Regions from separate parts of the Homo sapiens genome. Here region 2 is linked to region 1. The links come from fine-mapping of genetic effects on gene expression. Tissue or cell type: stomach. Region 1 holds a variant in brackets; the other region holds the start of a gene. All regions are shown on one strand. Distances are between the middles of the regions.

Region 1 (8,111 bases):
TGATACATCCTCAGCAAGACAGAGAAGAAAAATACAAATAACCAATACCAGGATTGAAACAAGAGATATCAGTGAAGATTCTATATTTATTAAAAAGAGGGGGTAATATGAACAATTTTATGCTAATAAAATTTAAAATTCAGATAAAATGAATGAATTTCTAGCAAGATACAACTTAACAAACTTACACACACAAAAAATGGAAAATCTTAGTAGCTTGCCTTCCTTCCTTCCTTTCTTTTTTTTTTTCTGAGACAGTGACATTCTCTATTGTCCAAGTTGGAGTGCAGTGGCAAGATCATAGCCCACCATAGCCTTCACCTCTTGGGTTCAAGCAAACTTCCCACCTTAGCCTCCTGAGTAGCTGGGACTAAGGTGTGCACCAACACACTTGGCTAATTTTTAAAATTTTTTTGTAGAGATGCAGTCTCACTATGTTGCCCAAGCCAGTCTTGAACTTCTAGGCTCAAGTGATCCTCCTGCCTCAGCCTTCCAAAGTGCTAGGATTACAGGTGTGAACCACTACACCCAGCTGAAAATCTTAATAACTTCATATCTATTTAGAACACTAGGTTTGCAATCAAAACTCATTCGCCCCCTCCCTCATAAAAACAACCACCACCAATAGCAGTAACAAAATCTCTGTCTCAAATAGTTTTATGAGGCTAGAATAACATTGATACCAAAACCTGACAAAGATATTACAATGAAAGGAAATTATAGACTAATATTCTTAATTAATTTAGATGAAAAATTTCTTCATAAGATCTAAGAAAACTGGATACAGTAATATATTCAATTGTATTAAAATATATTTGAATGTATATATGTATTACATGTAATCCAGTAATATATATGTGTGTGTGTGTGCATGTGTATGCATATGTAAAATCACAACAATGACATTTAGCCTGGGATGGCAAGATTGGCAAAACACTTGGAAAACAACCAGCATAATTCACCACATTAACGAATAAATAATTAGTAATTGAAGTAATTGAAGTGAGCATCCTTAACCTGATAAGGAGTGCCTACTAAAAACCTAGATAAAATATAAATGTTTTTCCTTTAAATCTGGATCATGACAAGGCTGCCTGCTCTTACCACTTCCATTCAACATTATGCTACAGTTCTGCTAGTTTAATAAGGCAATAACGATATTTAAAAAGGCATAAAGATTGGAAAAGAAGAAGTAAAAAGGTTTTGCTCTGTTTCCCAGGTTTGAGTGCAGTGATGCGATCATGGCTTACTGCAGCCTCAACCTCCTGTGTTCAAGCAATCTTCCTGTCTCAGTCTCCCAAGTAGCTGGGACTATAGTGCATGCCACCACACCCAGCTAATTTATTAATATTTCTTTTGTAGAGATGGGGGTCTCACTCTACTGACCAGGCTTGTCTTGAACTCCTGGCCTCACATGATCCTCCCACATTGGTCTCCGAAAGTGCTGGGATTACAGGTGTGAGCCACCACATCTGGCTGGAAAATACAATTTTAAAGCAATACTATTTACAATAGTATTAAAACCCATTTGTTACTTAGGAAGGAAAGATGTGCAAGACCTCTGTACTTGAAACTCCAAATCCTGTTGTTATTAAATTAAAGAAGACACTGAGTTAACTTTTTAAGAATTAAGTGGATCATCCAATCAACCATCCAATGTTTGTGGATTGGAAAACTCAGTTTTGTTATGATACTTATTCTTCTCAAATTTATAGATTTAACAAAATTCCAATTAAAATTCCAGCAAGCTCTTTTCTGTAGAAATTGACATGCTGATTCTAAGATGTATATAAAATGTGAAGGATCTAGAAATTTAAAAAGAAGAACAGAGTTGGAGGACACCTACCACTTGATTTCAAAACTTACCATAAAACTATGGTAATCAATATGGTGTGGTATTGGCATAGGACAGACAACTTAATCAAAGGACCAGAAACGAAGGTCCGGAATCAGACCCGCACATATACGGGCAATGAATTTTTGACAAAGGCACCAAAACAATTCAATGTGAAAAAGCAACTTGTGTTTGTTTGTTTGTTTGTTTGTTTGTTTTTCAACAAATGGTCCTGGAACAATTGAATAGCTAAATGGCAAGAAAAGAACCTCAAACCTTCTTTCTATAGATACACCAAAATTAATTTCAGATGGCTCAAAGGTTTAAAAATATAAGCAAGAACTAAAGGGCTTGTAGAAGAAAACATAGGAGAGTATCTTCACAGTCTTAGGGGCAGAAATAGATTTATTGGACAGAACATAAAAACATAATATAAAATAAAATTTTATAGATTAGAATTCATCGAAATGAAAATGTTCAGCTCATATGAAGACACCAGTAAGTAAATAAGTAGGCAAGCCACGAACCAGGAGGAAAAATTTGTAATACGTATATCTAACAAGAACTTTAATCCAGAATAAAGAATTACTAAAAATTAACAATGAAATGCCAACCCAATAAAAAGTAGCAAAAGCCTTGAACAGATATTTCACAAAAGAAAATGTATGAATGGCTAATTAGCACATGAAAAGTTTCTCTCTCATTATACTATAATCTCCACAAGGACAGAGAATATATTTGTTTTGTTGGTATTCTTTTTTTAAATTTTATTTTACTTTAAGTTCTGGGATACATGTGCTGAACCTGCAGGTTTGTTACATATGTATACATGTGCCATTGTGGTTTGCTGCACCTATCAACCCATCATCTAGGTTTTAAGTCCTGCATGCATTAGGTATTTGTCTTAATGCTCTCCCTCCCCTTTCCCCCCATCCCCCAACAGGCCCTTGTGTGTGATGACTTAAAGGTGAGCAGAACTTAGTCTGGTGTCTTAGTTTATTCAGTCTGCTATAACAAAATACCTTAGACTGTGTAGTTCATAAATGAAACTCACAGTTCTGCAGGGTGGGAAGTTCAAGACCAATGCACTGTCAGATTCAGTGTCTGGTGAGGACCTGTGTCTCATAGATAGCACCTTCCATGTGTCCTTATGTGGCAGAAGGGGAAACACGCCTCCTCAAGCCTCTTTTATAAGGGCAGTAATGCCATTCATGAAGGCTGCCCTCATAACCCTATCACCTCTCAACGGCCCCACTTCTTCACGCCATCACCTTGGGCCTTAGGTTTCAACATAAGAATTTTGTTGGGGGCACAAACATTCAGTTCACAGCTCCTGGTATGGGATATGCAAAGGTCCAGGGAAGGAAGCAGGCCCTCCCACAGAGAGGCGTCTGAATGGAAACAGAGCAAGCTAGGGTAGGAGAGAAGCATTCTACTTAGATGGAACTCGACTGGTTAAGAATCTATTAGACAGAACTGGATTTTTACATGCCAAACAAAAGGGCCTATGTGATTATTTCTAGAGTACCCAGAAAGCGAGTAGCACATGCCTGAGATTTCATCCAGAAATGGAGAAAAGAGTAAGTCCAGAAATGTTGGTTTAAATGTCCATGGGAGAAGGAATAAAATTGCTTAATGTTTTCACACTAAAAAAAAGAAAAGAAAAAAAAAAGAAAAGGTTCTCAACATCATTAGTTATTAGAGAAATGAAAAATAAAACCACAGTGAGATGGCAATTTCCACCAACTCGAACGTCTAAAATTTAAAAAATATTGGCAATACTATATTAGCAAGAATGTGGAGAAGACTGCAACTCTCATACATTGCTAGTGGGAACACAAAATGGTACAACCCCTACCACAAGATGCCGACTTCTGTGGTCCTTCTTTATAGTTTTCCATTGAAACAGTCCTCCCAAATAGATCCGATGTCCCACCTGGGCCGTCGAACACGTATGGGCACATACCTGTCCATGTGTGTTCTGCCCCTGGCCCACCACACATGCAGGAAAGAACATCTTAATGACTGTGGATTTGCTAGAAAAATGTGAACTTTCCATTAAAACCTAACCACATTTATGGCATCAATTTTTTTTTTTTCTATAGCAGTGTTTAGTTTAATTTACAAAATGCTCAAGTAGAATACACATGACAATGTTAAGCACTGTATACAGTTAAGTGTCAAATTATGTTTCACTATAGAAGTGTGACGGCTTCACAACACATGATTGATATGATGCTATTAAAGAATCAGAGCAGACATGCTACATGATTTTTATTTTAAACCAGGCAGGCATTTCCTTCTCTATATTCTTTGTTGCAGTCTACTGTATAAAAGTCAGTTGGAAGTTTTTGTGTTTTAGTAATTTTGCTGAATTTACCATTGTCAATTTGAGATTATTCTTTTAAATGTTGTTAAGTCCTTTTCTTCCCATTTACAATTTCAACTCAGTTTACTAAAATTCAAAATAACCAGTGAAAATACATTTTCAAAGATGCTTTAATATATTTTATAGTACATTTATTTGTCATTCTGTATGAAAACTTCCTTTTTTTTTTTTTTGAGACAGAGTCTTGCTGTGTCACCCAGGCTGGAGTGCAGTGGCGCAGTCTCAGCCCACTGCAAGCTTCGCCTCCCGGGTTCACGCCATTCTCCTGCCTCAGCCTCCCGAGTAGCTGGGACCGCAGGCGCCCACCACCACGCCCAGCCAATTTTTTTGTATTATTAGTAGAGACGGGGTTTCACCGTGTTAGCCAGGATGGTCTCGATCTCCTGACCTCGTGATCTGCCCGCCTC[G/A]GCCTCCCAAAGTGCTGGGATTACAGGTGTGAGCCACCGCGTTATGGCATCAATTTTAAAGTGAAGCTGAATATGACTACCTTACTGATATGGTTTGGCTGTGTCCCCACCCAAATCTCATCTTGAATTGTAGCTCCCATAATTCCCATGTGTTATGGGAGGGACCCTGTGGGAGATCATTGAATCATAGTGTTGATTAAGTCTCACAAGATCTGATGGTTTTATAAGAGGAAACCCCTTTTGCTTGGCTCTCAATTCTCTCTTGTCTGCTGCCACGTAAGACATGTCTTTTGCCTTCTGCCATGATTGTGAGGCCTTCCCAGGCACATGGAACTGTAAGTCCATTAAACCTCTTTTTCTTTATAAATTCCCCAATCTTGGGTATGTCTTTATCAGCAGCATGAAAATGGACTAATACACTTACCTTTCACCATTTACTCTATTTTCTCTTTTCAAACTAAATAATAATCTCTTAATTTCTGTATCTCCAGAACCTATTATTATAGTTTCTGGACTATGATGAGGTGCAATAACCATGAATTTAGTCACTTTCATGTGGAACATAAATGGCAGGAAATAAATTGTTTGGAAAGTATTACATGTTTTACTATTCATTTACTCAAAAGTATTTTTGAGCTCTTATTTTCTCCTTCTTAATTTAAAAAACCTCAGGCTGTTGAAGGAGAGATCATGTATTCATTTATTTCTTAGCTACTGGGCAGAGCAAAAATCAATAATTAGAAGAAGTGTGTTTTCCATGAAATTTTACACTCAAATCAACATTATAACTGTAGTGAAATTGGCATCACATTCTAAATAAGGGACCGAGCTATTCTTGTAGGAAATATAAACCTGGTATGAAAAGTAAGTGCTTATCAATAACACTTCCAGGAAGCAATTTTTACTCCGGGGCAATTTGCTGTGCATGCTGGGTCACTGCTGAGTTCAATGCTTCAGAACTTTAGATGATGAAAATGCCTTTCTTCCACATTACGTGCACTGCTGAGTTTCAGTTGGAAGGGTCCTTAGAGACCACCTGGTCCAACCCCCTTTTGCTTTTTATTTTCTTTCTTTTTTTTTTTTTTTAGGGGACAGGGTCTCACTCCATTGCCCAAGCTGGAGTGCAATGGCATGAGCACAGCTCACTGCAGCCTTGAACTCCTGGTTCAAGCAATCCCACCACCTCAGCCTCACACACAGCTGGGACTTGTCAATGAAAAGAGTCAAACTCAGTAAAATATTTGAAAAAAACGTATTCTGAGCCAGGTTTGAGTGACCCATAGCCCATGACGCAGCCCTCAGGAGATGCTGAGAATATGTGTCCAAGGTGGTTGGGCCACAACTTGGTTTCACACATTTTAGGGAGACATAAGGCATCAATCCATACATGTAACATATACATTGGTTTGGTTCAGAAAGGCAGGTTAAATGGAAGCTGCGGGCTTTCAGATCATAGGTAGAACCAAAGATTTTCTGATTGGCAATTGATTGAAATAGTTATTATCTAAAGACTTAGAAAGAGTGTTTTGGTTAAGATAAAGGGTTGTGGAGACTAAGGTTTTATTACACAAGCGAAGCCTCTAGGTAGCAGGATTTAGAGAGAATAGATTGCAAATGTTTCCTGTCAGACTCAAAAAGTCTTTTCTATGAGTAATTCCAAAAGGGAGGAGGGTATAATGGAGCATGTCTAGCACCCCCTTCCCATCATGGACTGAACTGGATTTTCAGGTTAACTTTGGAATGCCCTTGGCCAAGAGAAGAGGCCCATTCAGATGGTTGGGGGGCCTTAGAATTTTATTTTTGGTTTACAGACTATAGGTATGCACCACCATGCCTGGATCCCCCTTATTTTTCAATTAAGAAAGCACTCCAGGGTGGTTAACTACTTACGCAAATATTACAGAGTTATTTGAGATTTGTGATAAGAATCTGGTCTTGCAATTCTTGGTTCATTATTCTTTCCTTTACTGCAAGTAGGTAAGAAGATAAATCATGGGTATGGTTTATTGTCAGTGTCCTAGGGTGACAGAGAATCAGTTTTGGGGAAAATAGGTTAATTACAAAGCTTTCCAGAAGACTTGTTCCTCAGAAACTAAATTACATATCTTCTTTTCCTGCTCCCAATCATTGCCTCTCATGCAGGATTAGGCCAAGCAGGTGGGAAGAGAACTGAATACTAGAGGGTCTTAGAGAAAATGAAGTTTAGCCAGTCATTCATAGAAGAGGAACTGAAACTTATTTCACAGAGAGGTTAAGCAACCTTCATTCTCCCTTTAGTGAAAGAGGCAAATATTCTTTAGAAACCCATGTGACAGCTTCGTTCTCTTGCAGCTGATTTTGAATCTTGCAGTTAATCATGATCTCTGGGCCATGGGCCTTATTGTCTTGAGGCTCTCATTTTACTGATTGATAAAGCAGAAAAACAGAGAAGTGGTGTGATGTGGCGAGAAAGTGCTAGCAGGAAATGAGATAGCTATTACCACCCAGGGCTCTCCTGTTTCTCTCTGCAAGACTCCTTTGGAAATCTTGCATTGCCTTCCCCTTTCTGAGTAATTCCGCGGGGCTTCATTTAGATTGTGCTCATTTGCATTAACTCTCATAACGAAGAGGTGTATTACCAACTGAAATGGAAAAAGGCCTGTGGTTACTTTGTGTCTTCTCTGCTGTCTCTGGTCTCTGGGACCAGAACTCATCCTCAGTACCGAGAGCCAAAGAGGAGCTGACCATGGATTAGATGAAATAAGGTACTGTGTACCTGACACCCAGGAAATAGTCAGTGTTTCTTACCTCCTAGTATTGTTGCAAAATGAAGCAGAATACAGTATATCTTTTGATTCAAAGGTGTCATTAGGCCTTATAACTATTAACCAATTAACAGGTTAATATTTTAGCTTGCACTTTTGCTTTAAAATCTGAATATTGCATGTTAATTTAAAATATGGTTTGTTAGGAGTGTGGTAGGAATATAACTTGTTTGAAATTGACATCAATGTCTAAAATGAAAAACCATGCATCCCAAAACATGGTGATTACCAGCGGAAGGTCAGGAAAACATGCTTCTCTTCTGCAGATGGAGGTACAATGAGGTGTTTGACAGGGGCTTATGTTCCCAACACACCTGGCCTGGACTCTGCATGGAGAAAAAGGTTTGTTCACTAGACTGAGATTTCGAAGGGTAGAGTATTTGTAGAGAGAAGCCAGGTCTCCAGTGTTGCTGGGTTTGGGGAAAGCCTGTAATGGATTCAGGTGTCCAGGTGAGAACAGCTTTCTGACAAATGTGCTGCTGAGGGTGATGTTCTCTCAGCACGTGGCCTGTGAGCTCTCAGTGATGCTCCAGCCAGCAGGAGTACACCAATAAGCCTGACTCTCTGCCAATAGCTGGGGCCAGAGGTCTCGTCCTCATTTTTCACTGGTACCTGGCAGGCAAAATTCCTATCCAGGAGGGAATGGTAGCTCTGGACAGTTGTATAAATATGCTATC
Region 2 (8,111 bases), 220 kb before region 1:
ATCATTAAGCTGAACATACAAATCACTCTTACATTTAGTATTGCAAATATATTAACACAAATACATGAAACATTGTATTTGGAAATCACTCTATCAGTATATTATTTCTTATAAAAATAACATTTCATGATTTTTCCACATTACAATAAAACCAGAAAAATTTTACTAAAGTGCAAAACAAAAATAAAGCTTTACTTTTATAATAGTTCCATTTCATTTTCTTTTAAAAAGGTGAACAACAAAATGAACGAATAAAGATATCGCTTTTGCAACCTAAGAGTCATTTAAGTTTTAAACTTTCAAAGACCTGAGATTTGTGATTTTTTTTCCCCTTATCTTTCCAGTTCTGCTTCTAGAATTTCCCCCCATGTATCTGCATCCATTGGGTACATGATTTTTTCTGGTAGGCTAATGGGAGAACAAATGTTGCTGTATCTGCCACTTAGCCATTCGTGTTTCACTTTACTCTTCTGGTAATTCCTCAGCAGTATCACCTGAAAGAGGTAAATCACCGTTAAAAAAGACTGTAGTAGGTGGTTGGTTAGTGAATGTGTTTAAAGCAAGAGAAGCAGATTGACAGGGCTGAAAAAAAGAGTATTTACATTTATATATACGTACATTAATAAATGTATGTGTCTGTGTACGTGTGTGTATGTATATGTGTATTTATACTGAGTGGCATAAGGTGAAGTGGAAAGAAGGAGCTAATTCCCTTCTGGTTAACGCAGGAAAATTCCCGAATTTAGAATTTTAAAAATGCAAAAGGATAAATGAAAGATAGTGTGGAAACAGTGTGGTTAGCAGGAAAAGACTAATAACTTTAACTCATTTCCAAGAGTCAACACACTGTCTGTGTTATTCTGCATATGTAATTCTGACTCCTCCAAGCAGAAGTTAGAATTGGCGCAAACCTGCTATCATAACGCTGTCAACAACACTGCAGATCGCAAAGATTAAACTTACCCTCCAGGAATAACCACTTTCTAGATCATCATCTATTTCTCTTCGGCACACAGCTCTTACAGTCATGCAGTGAGGTTTCCATAAAGAGTCACTGTTTCTTATTGTGTCATTCCAGCTCCTGCATGTCAATGAAGCCCTGCACAGACTCCGAATGTCCAGCTGACTGAAAATTTTAAAAGTGATTTCTGCAGGCAGCAGTTCAAAAAAGTTGTTTTGACTCTCATTTTTTTCCTTCTCAGCATCCACAGAGTTCGCTTCTGTGTGAGAAACTCTTAAATTATTGTTTCTCTTGGAGTTTTTATGCATAGCTTAATGTTTTAAGTTATCCTCATATGTAACCTAAAAGGCAAAATTTAAACATGCTCAGTCTCCAAATAGGAGTATAAATCCTACTTTAAGTCAGATGCTTTTTGGGTATAATTTAAGAACTCTTTCTTGACTTTAGCTTCTCAATCTGTAAAATGGGCCAATGCTGCCGCTCTCCTGAAAGTTCTTGCAAGGATTAACAGTGATAGTGGGTAAAATATCTAGTCTTGCTACATCTGAATTGCACATGGGAGGCACCCAACATGTTAGTTTCACTCTCACCCAGGCTGGAGTGCAGATGTGTCATAATAGCTCACTGCAGCCTCAAACTCCAGCCTCAAGCGATTCTCTTGACTCAGCGTACCCCGCCCCTCTTTAAAAAAAAAAAAAAGAAAAAAAAAAAAACAGAAAACCAAAAACTGTTTTACGGAGAAATGGTTCTTGCTATGTTGTCCAGGCTGGTCTTGAACTCTTGTCCTCAAGCAATCCTTCTGCCTCAGCCTCCCAGAGTGCTGGGATGACAGGTATGAGCCACCATACCCGGTACTTTTGTACCTTTGAAAATGTATATGAGTCAATCCTATTAAACTCCTGAATACTTGTTGTACATGGGAACTGATGCCTCATCATTAATTTGCAATTTGTGACTTAATCATAAACTTGCTGGACTTCTAGTTGTTTATATAAGAATTTTATCTACTTGTATCTTATAGGTAGGTAGGTGCTTACATTTGACACAACTACTATCTGAAATGGACAAGAAGATGAGATCTGGATTATGAAACAAAGTCTCAAATATTCAACTCAGTCATAAGAGTAGTGTTTTAGAAATGGCCCCTTGAAGCTATCCTACATGCATAATTACAAGCTAAGGATAATAGTCACTGAAGACATCAAGCAACAGTGAGTGACAACTGTAAACAATGTTTAGAACTCAGCTAGGTACAGTATGTGACTCTTTGAAGCCCAGATTTAAAGCTCAGTTTCAGCTAATTTACCTAAGGTGAATGGTGTAGGCTTCCCAAATCAGTTGAAAGCATGACTGGGTACATCACCATCCTTGAGTTACTTTTGTATATAAAGACAGCTTGTATTCACTTAAAATCAGTTTATTCCATTTTGCACTTCCTTTTATAACGGGGGTTGGTTGTGCAAGAGGAGAGGTTTGAGGTAAATACTTCTTTTAACTCAGCTGAACACAAATCTCTTTTCTAGACGAGCTACTCAGCTATGTTTTCGGACTTGCCAAGACCACGGTGGCTCCCATTCATGATCCAGATTAGCTGTGGTGGCTGGAACTGCAGTCTGTGTTCAACAGAGGTCTTCTTCTTGAGGGTTAGGAGAAGTAAGAAAGCAAACGTAAAAACGGGTGAGTCAAGAGCAAGTTTTTGCCATGCACCTTGGCCCCTCCCACCACCAATACAAACCAAAGCCAAACCACAACGTTCTTGAAAAGAATCTCACATTAGGAAAACGTTACAGTGCATTTAAACGTTACAGTGTGTTTATCCACTTCTCCCAGGATCTTACTGGGAGAATAAAATGCGTCCCCTTGTGGAATTCCTGTAACGGGAATGAAGGCTTTTGAATTTCACAGCAGGGGATACCTTTGCGAGTTTCTAAAATCCCACTAGGAATCTTTCTTCTACGTCCAGGTTCGCCTGGATGCCTGGAAACGACCCCTCTTCTGCCCTTTCTCCTTTATGAACTGAGCTTTCCTGAATTCTCTCTCAAGTGAAGTAAAAGCTCGTCCCCCTTTCAACTATCATTCGGAGGGATAGATCGGCGGCAGCGCAGTCGGAGGGGCGGGGAGCCCCACTCCGTCCAAATCCCGCGGGTCAGGGCTAATCACCCCACGTCCCGTCTGAGCCACCCTCCTTGTGTCCCGCGCGGGTTGCAGCTGCTGGAACCCAAGAACACAGGGCACTGACAAGTGACAACAACCGTCAGCGTTGACTGTCACTGCGGCTCCAGGCCGCGGAGGGAAGGCTGAGCTTGCGTCCAGGCCGCGTCCCCGGGAGCGTAGACACCTAAGCCAACGGGAACGGAAGACCCTTCTACCTACTAGGCCGCGGTAGCTTCTCCTCCCGCGATTTAAATCCACCGGAATTCGAATCCTTCCCCATAGCTCTTCGCATCCCGCCCACCTGAGTCCCGCCCTGCTCAGAACTCGCGCAGGCGCCGAGAGGGGCGCGCAGTGCCTTTGGGGATTGGTAGTTTTTTCCAGGGCGTCTCCGCTCGGGAAAGGAAGTGAAGAAAGCCACCAGGACTACAAGGCCCGGCGTCCTCCAAGATGGGAGGGAGGTGAAAAGGGTGTTGGGGAATAAGCCGGGGTTTTTAAACAGTAGTTTTGAGGCGGCGAGACTGGGGAATCCCCGGTTGCGTCATTAGTAGGCGTGGAGGGGCGGGACTCGTGAAGCTGCGCTGGGGCCGGGCTCTGAGAGGACCGGCGCAGCCGCGGGGAGCCTTTGAGGCCCTCCCTCGGTGTTTTTTCCCAGGGCGTGGGCTTGCCCCGCGCGTGTCTGTGGAGGGCGGAAACAGCGGAGGGGCCAGTCTCCTGGCGAAGGGGCCTAATCCTTGCCCGCCATGTCCGGGGGCTTCGAGCTGCAGCCGCGGGACGGCGGTCCCCGGGTGGCCCTGGCGCCCGGGGAGACGGTGATCGGCCGCGGGCCGCTGCTGGGAGTAAGTGTGGGCGGGGGCTTAGCGGACCCCGAGAGCCGTGGAGTTCCGCGCCGGCTCCTGAAGACCGGCCCTAGTCCTGGCCGGTTTCCCCACCGCACTGGTCCGCCGGTCCGGATTTTAGAAGTTTGGGGCCGCACGTTTTTCAGTTACCTTTAAGCCAATTCACAAACATTTCTTTATGTTGCTTTTAAAACACTGACTGTATTACCATTATTATCTTATCCAGGGATTGGCAAACTAGTGCCTGGGGGCCAAATCCAGCCTATGTTTGTATGGCCCCATGAACTAAGAATGATTCTTAAATTCTGAAATGTAAAATGTAAACAAAAAATCTACTAATTTTTCAGGGGGAATAGTTGCTCCAAGGGTTGAGGGTATTGCGGCTTGTCTTGTAAAGCCTAAAATATTTACAGTAGTGTCTGGTCCTTTACAGAAAAGTTTGCCAAACTGTGATATTACGTCTTCTAGGCTAATTTCTTTTAACCTTTGGTCTCCTTTGCAGAGCTGTGTGGACCTTATTTATTTATATTATTTATTATTTCCAGTAAAATGAGTAGCTAACCCTTCATAAGTAATGTGTATAGCGTTCGTGTCATTGGTCTAAGGAGACATTACCTATACCAACATCTTTAACTGTCTCAAGACCGTATCAGTTAGCTATTTTTATTATCCTCATTGTTCAGATGAGAAAATTGAGCCATACATACATTATTTAAAGTCCATACATAAGCTTTTGGACACATAATGCCACAAAGCTAAATATTCTCTACCTTCTTTGGGAGAGGTTTAGGAATAAGAACATTTGCATATTGCATTCTGGAATTCTATAGATCTCTTAAGTACATCTAGTTTTCTATTTTGTTCTTTAACATTCAACATTTCTTGTTTGGTGCTCACTGTGTAGAACATTTTGCAGATTCTAGCACTGTGGGGCATACAAAGATGAATGGAACATGGGTCCCTACCCTTTAGGAGTTTTCTCTTGGGACCGGGGAGACACCTGTGTCAGTGAGCTAACACCAAGGAGTAAGGAGTGTGTACTGTTGTCCTGGTTAACTTCCAGAGTCTAAATGGAACCATTGGTACTTGCCTTAGGTCCCTTCTGGGAGCAGGGAAAGGAGTGGTAGTTTAAGATTGTATTATGGAAGCTGGTCCTAAAGGGGTGTGTGTGTGTGTGTGTGTGTGTGTGTGTGTTGTGTGTTGTGTGTTGTGTACATGCACATGTGCATGTGGTAAGGTTATTGAGGAAGTAGATATTCAATTGCTGTTCATTTTTTTACTGGACAAGTGATTATTTAAATATTTAACATCATTTCTATTTTTTTCATCGTTTGTTGGCCTATACAAACACTGGAAGGAACTGTCTGGAGGCTTTATTTTTCTTTTAAATTCGTAGGTTTGAAACTTAAGAGTATGTGCTTAATCTAGTAATCATATGTCTGGTGACTAACGAGTTTTGACTTGCTTAAGAAATTGTCACCAGTAGAGTACTGTGGGTCTGGTTAAAAGGTGGATGAATTTTAGGGCCGTGGTTTAGAAACATGGCAACAGATTGCAGACCGTTTCATTATTTGTAGCTTGTTCTTTGTGTTGTCGACTTGCTAATGTGAGATGAGCCTATTTGGTATCTGTTTTTAAAAATGGTAAGGAGTGAAAGCTGGGCAATTACCTGGTCAAGATTTTGCTTTTCCTTTTGAAATAACATTCAGGGATGAGATTCTTTTGCCAAGGTTGGCGTGTATCAGAAGTGGTTATGAATGACATCCTAAGTGTGTTAAAGGAAAAATTTGGAGAACAAACAAATCGCCTTGTAGTTTTTTCGATTTTGGAGCTGACAGATGCACTCGATTCTTCTCTGCACTGGTTAAAACACAACATAAGGGCTCCTGTTTCCAACAACAGCAATTCCAGTGAGATTTATTTTTGTATTGTGAGAGAGCGAAGACTGAGTTCTAAGTGGAAAACTCAGTAAGTTCATTGTAAATTGGAATCGGAAACGATTAATATAAATAAGGATGATTTTGAACTTTCTTAATTGGGCATGTTTTTCTGAGACAAGCTTCACAAACCTTGATGGCCACACAAACATAAAAGTTTATAATCTGACTGTGTAAAATAGTCTTGGTAGTAAAACAGTTTGACAATGAGAATGGTTTTGTATTTTTATGGTGGTAGGAAAACACAACAGAGAAACCTGTCACAGAGAACAAAGGACAATGAAATTTAATCTTTCTTGTTCCCTTTGCTTTCATGTGAGTCATCAGAGAACCCCAGGTCTTTGTTTACTAGATTTTGATTCTGCTCCATGATTGGCATCAGTTAGAAGGTTTTACAGCAGGATTAATCTTCAGAGAACTTGAGTTAAAACAGCCAATCCAAAAGATTACATATTGTGTGATTCCATTTATATAACATCATTGAAATTGCGAAATTGCAAAATTTCAAAAATGGAGAACAGATTAGTGGTTGCCAAAGGTTAAAAAATTAGGCAGCAGGGCAGAAGGGAATGGATATGGCTATAAAATAGCAACATGAGGGATATTTGTGGTGATAGAAATGTGCTTTGTCTGGACTGTGTCAGTATCAATATCTTAGGTTGATATATTGTACTATAGTTTTGTAAGACGTTACCATTAGGGGAAACTGGATAAATGGTACAAGAGATATTTCTATATTATATCTTTCAACTACATGTGAATCTACCATTATCTTAAGAAATTTAATTTAAAAGGGTTTTACAGTACGACATGTCAAGCACTGTTAGGCCAAAGTATTTGCTTTATGGGTTTTAATTAAAGCTGTTACACTCTTAAATGAAATCTACTATTTCTGATTTCAGATTTTTCTTATTTTGTTTTGACAGCAGGGATTATATGACACATTTCTTTATGATCTATTTTCCTCCTAGGAAACAAGATAGCAAAAGATATCTAGTGATACTTTCTCAATGTAGATGTAATTAAATTGACTGCTTTGATTAAAAGGAGAAGAGTCCTCAGTTGGGGGAACAGGGAAGGTCATAGGCTTCAGTATAGACTCTTCAGGTGGCATCAGTTCACCACTTCTAAGAATGTTGTAAATGTTCTACAAAGTTTACACAAAGTAACCATCCCCTGACCTGGCAGCTCTATACTTTTAACTGCTTGTTGCAGAATCCTGGCTGTCCTGGAATGCTGTTCCTACCTGCTCCAACATAGGTTTCTTCCCTTACGTTTCTTTTATTTCTAGATTTGCCCTTCCCTCATTTTATTATTTAGCCTACAACCAGTGCCTAGCACACAGTAGGCCTTTAACACGTGATTTCTTCCTTCCATTTCGGCATCTCAGCCTCTCATTCACTCTACCCTCAAAAAGAGCCTAATTGTGACTTAGATATGAAAAAGGGTTATCATTGAGTTTTGAAGTGAATTTAAATATAGTAAAGATGCAGTCCTACCAACTGCTAAATCTTGAGTAGCATTCATAATGAATTAAGTTTTAACATTTTTCCTGTTTTGTTGATTGATAATTCGCTAAATTCAGGAAATAGCTGATAAATATATACTATGGTTGGATGGGAGGGAGTATAGGAGAAATAAAGGTGAATGAGAAACAAGTCTTTGCTCTCAAGAAACTTATAGTTTTGTAGGGTTAAGAGACAAATAAACAAGTATTAGTAACTAAATAAGGCTACAACCTCACATGGGGACTGGCGCCAGGCTGACACTTGGAGTAAGCGAAGTGGGAGGGAAGAAGAAAAACAACACAGGGACAGTGATAAATGACAACAGTTCTGCCTCAGTGTTGGGAAGGCCACAAGGAGAGGGTCTCTATGCAATCCCTGCTACTTTCCCCTATTCCCAGTTGGTAACAGTGTCATATTGTTTTTTTAAGAATAGTAAGAAATTTGAATTTTTAGATATAATCACTGATTTTTAAAAGGTCACATTTTTATTAAAAGTTTTGGTTAAATACCATGAGTCTGTTGATGAAGAGTTAAATTCTATAAAATATTTCAAGAGATTTATTCTGAGCCAAATATGAGTGACCATGGCCCGTGACACAGCCCTCAGGAGGTCCTGAGAGCATGTTCCCAAGATGGTCAGGGTACAGCTTGGTTTTTATATATTTTAGGGAGGCATGAGACATCAATCAAATACATTTAAGAAATACATTGGTTT

Which allele goes with the higher level. Positions count from the first base shown, and alleles are read on the strand shown. Sizes are in standard deviations (SD) of each study's normalised expression.
With allele G in place of A in region 1, the expression in stomach of the gene that starts at base 3,418 in region 2 is lower (large effect, 1.2 SD a copy in GTEx).

The links. PIP is the estimated chance that this variant, and not a neighbour inherited with it, causes the effect.
Region 2: it holds the start of FBXO48, and the variant in region 1 is fine-mapped to the expression of FBXO48 in stomach (GTEx, PIP 0.99).

The regions. Positions count from the first base shown.
Region 1 is chr2:68,683,164-68,691,274 of GRCh38, forward strand. No RefSeq gene overlaps it. Among named protein-coding and RNA genes, the nearest start is that of PROKR1, 44 kb to the left of the region's middle. The variant G/A (reference allele first, on the strand shown) is at 4,631.
Region 2 is chr2:68,463,877-68,471,987 of GRCh38, forward strand. It overlaps FBXO48 (F-box protein 48), which reads right to left and starts at 3,418. Exons shown (of 4, transcript NM_001024680.3): 1 at 3,335-3,418; 2 at 2,268-2,594; 3 at 964-1,302; 4 at 1-494. The coding sequence starts at 1,269. The coding sequence ends at 333. It overlaps APLF (aprataxin and PNKP like factor), which reads left to right and starts at 3,709. Exons shown (of 10, transcript NM_173545.3): 1 at 3,709-3,951. The coding sequence starts at 3,856. RefSeq lists enhancers at 2,499-2,558, 2,652-3,547, 3,548-4,442 and a silencer at 3,784-3,993.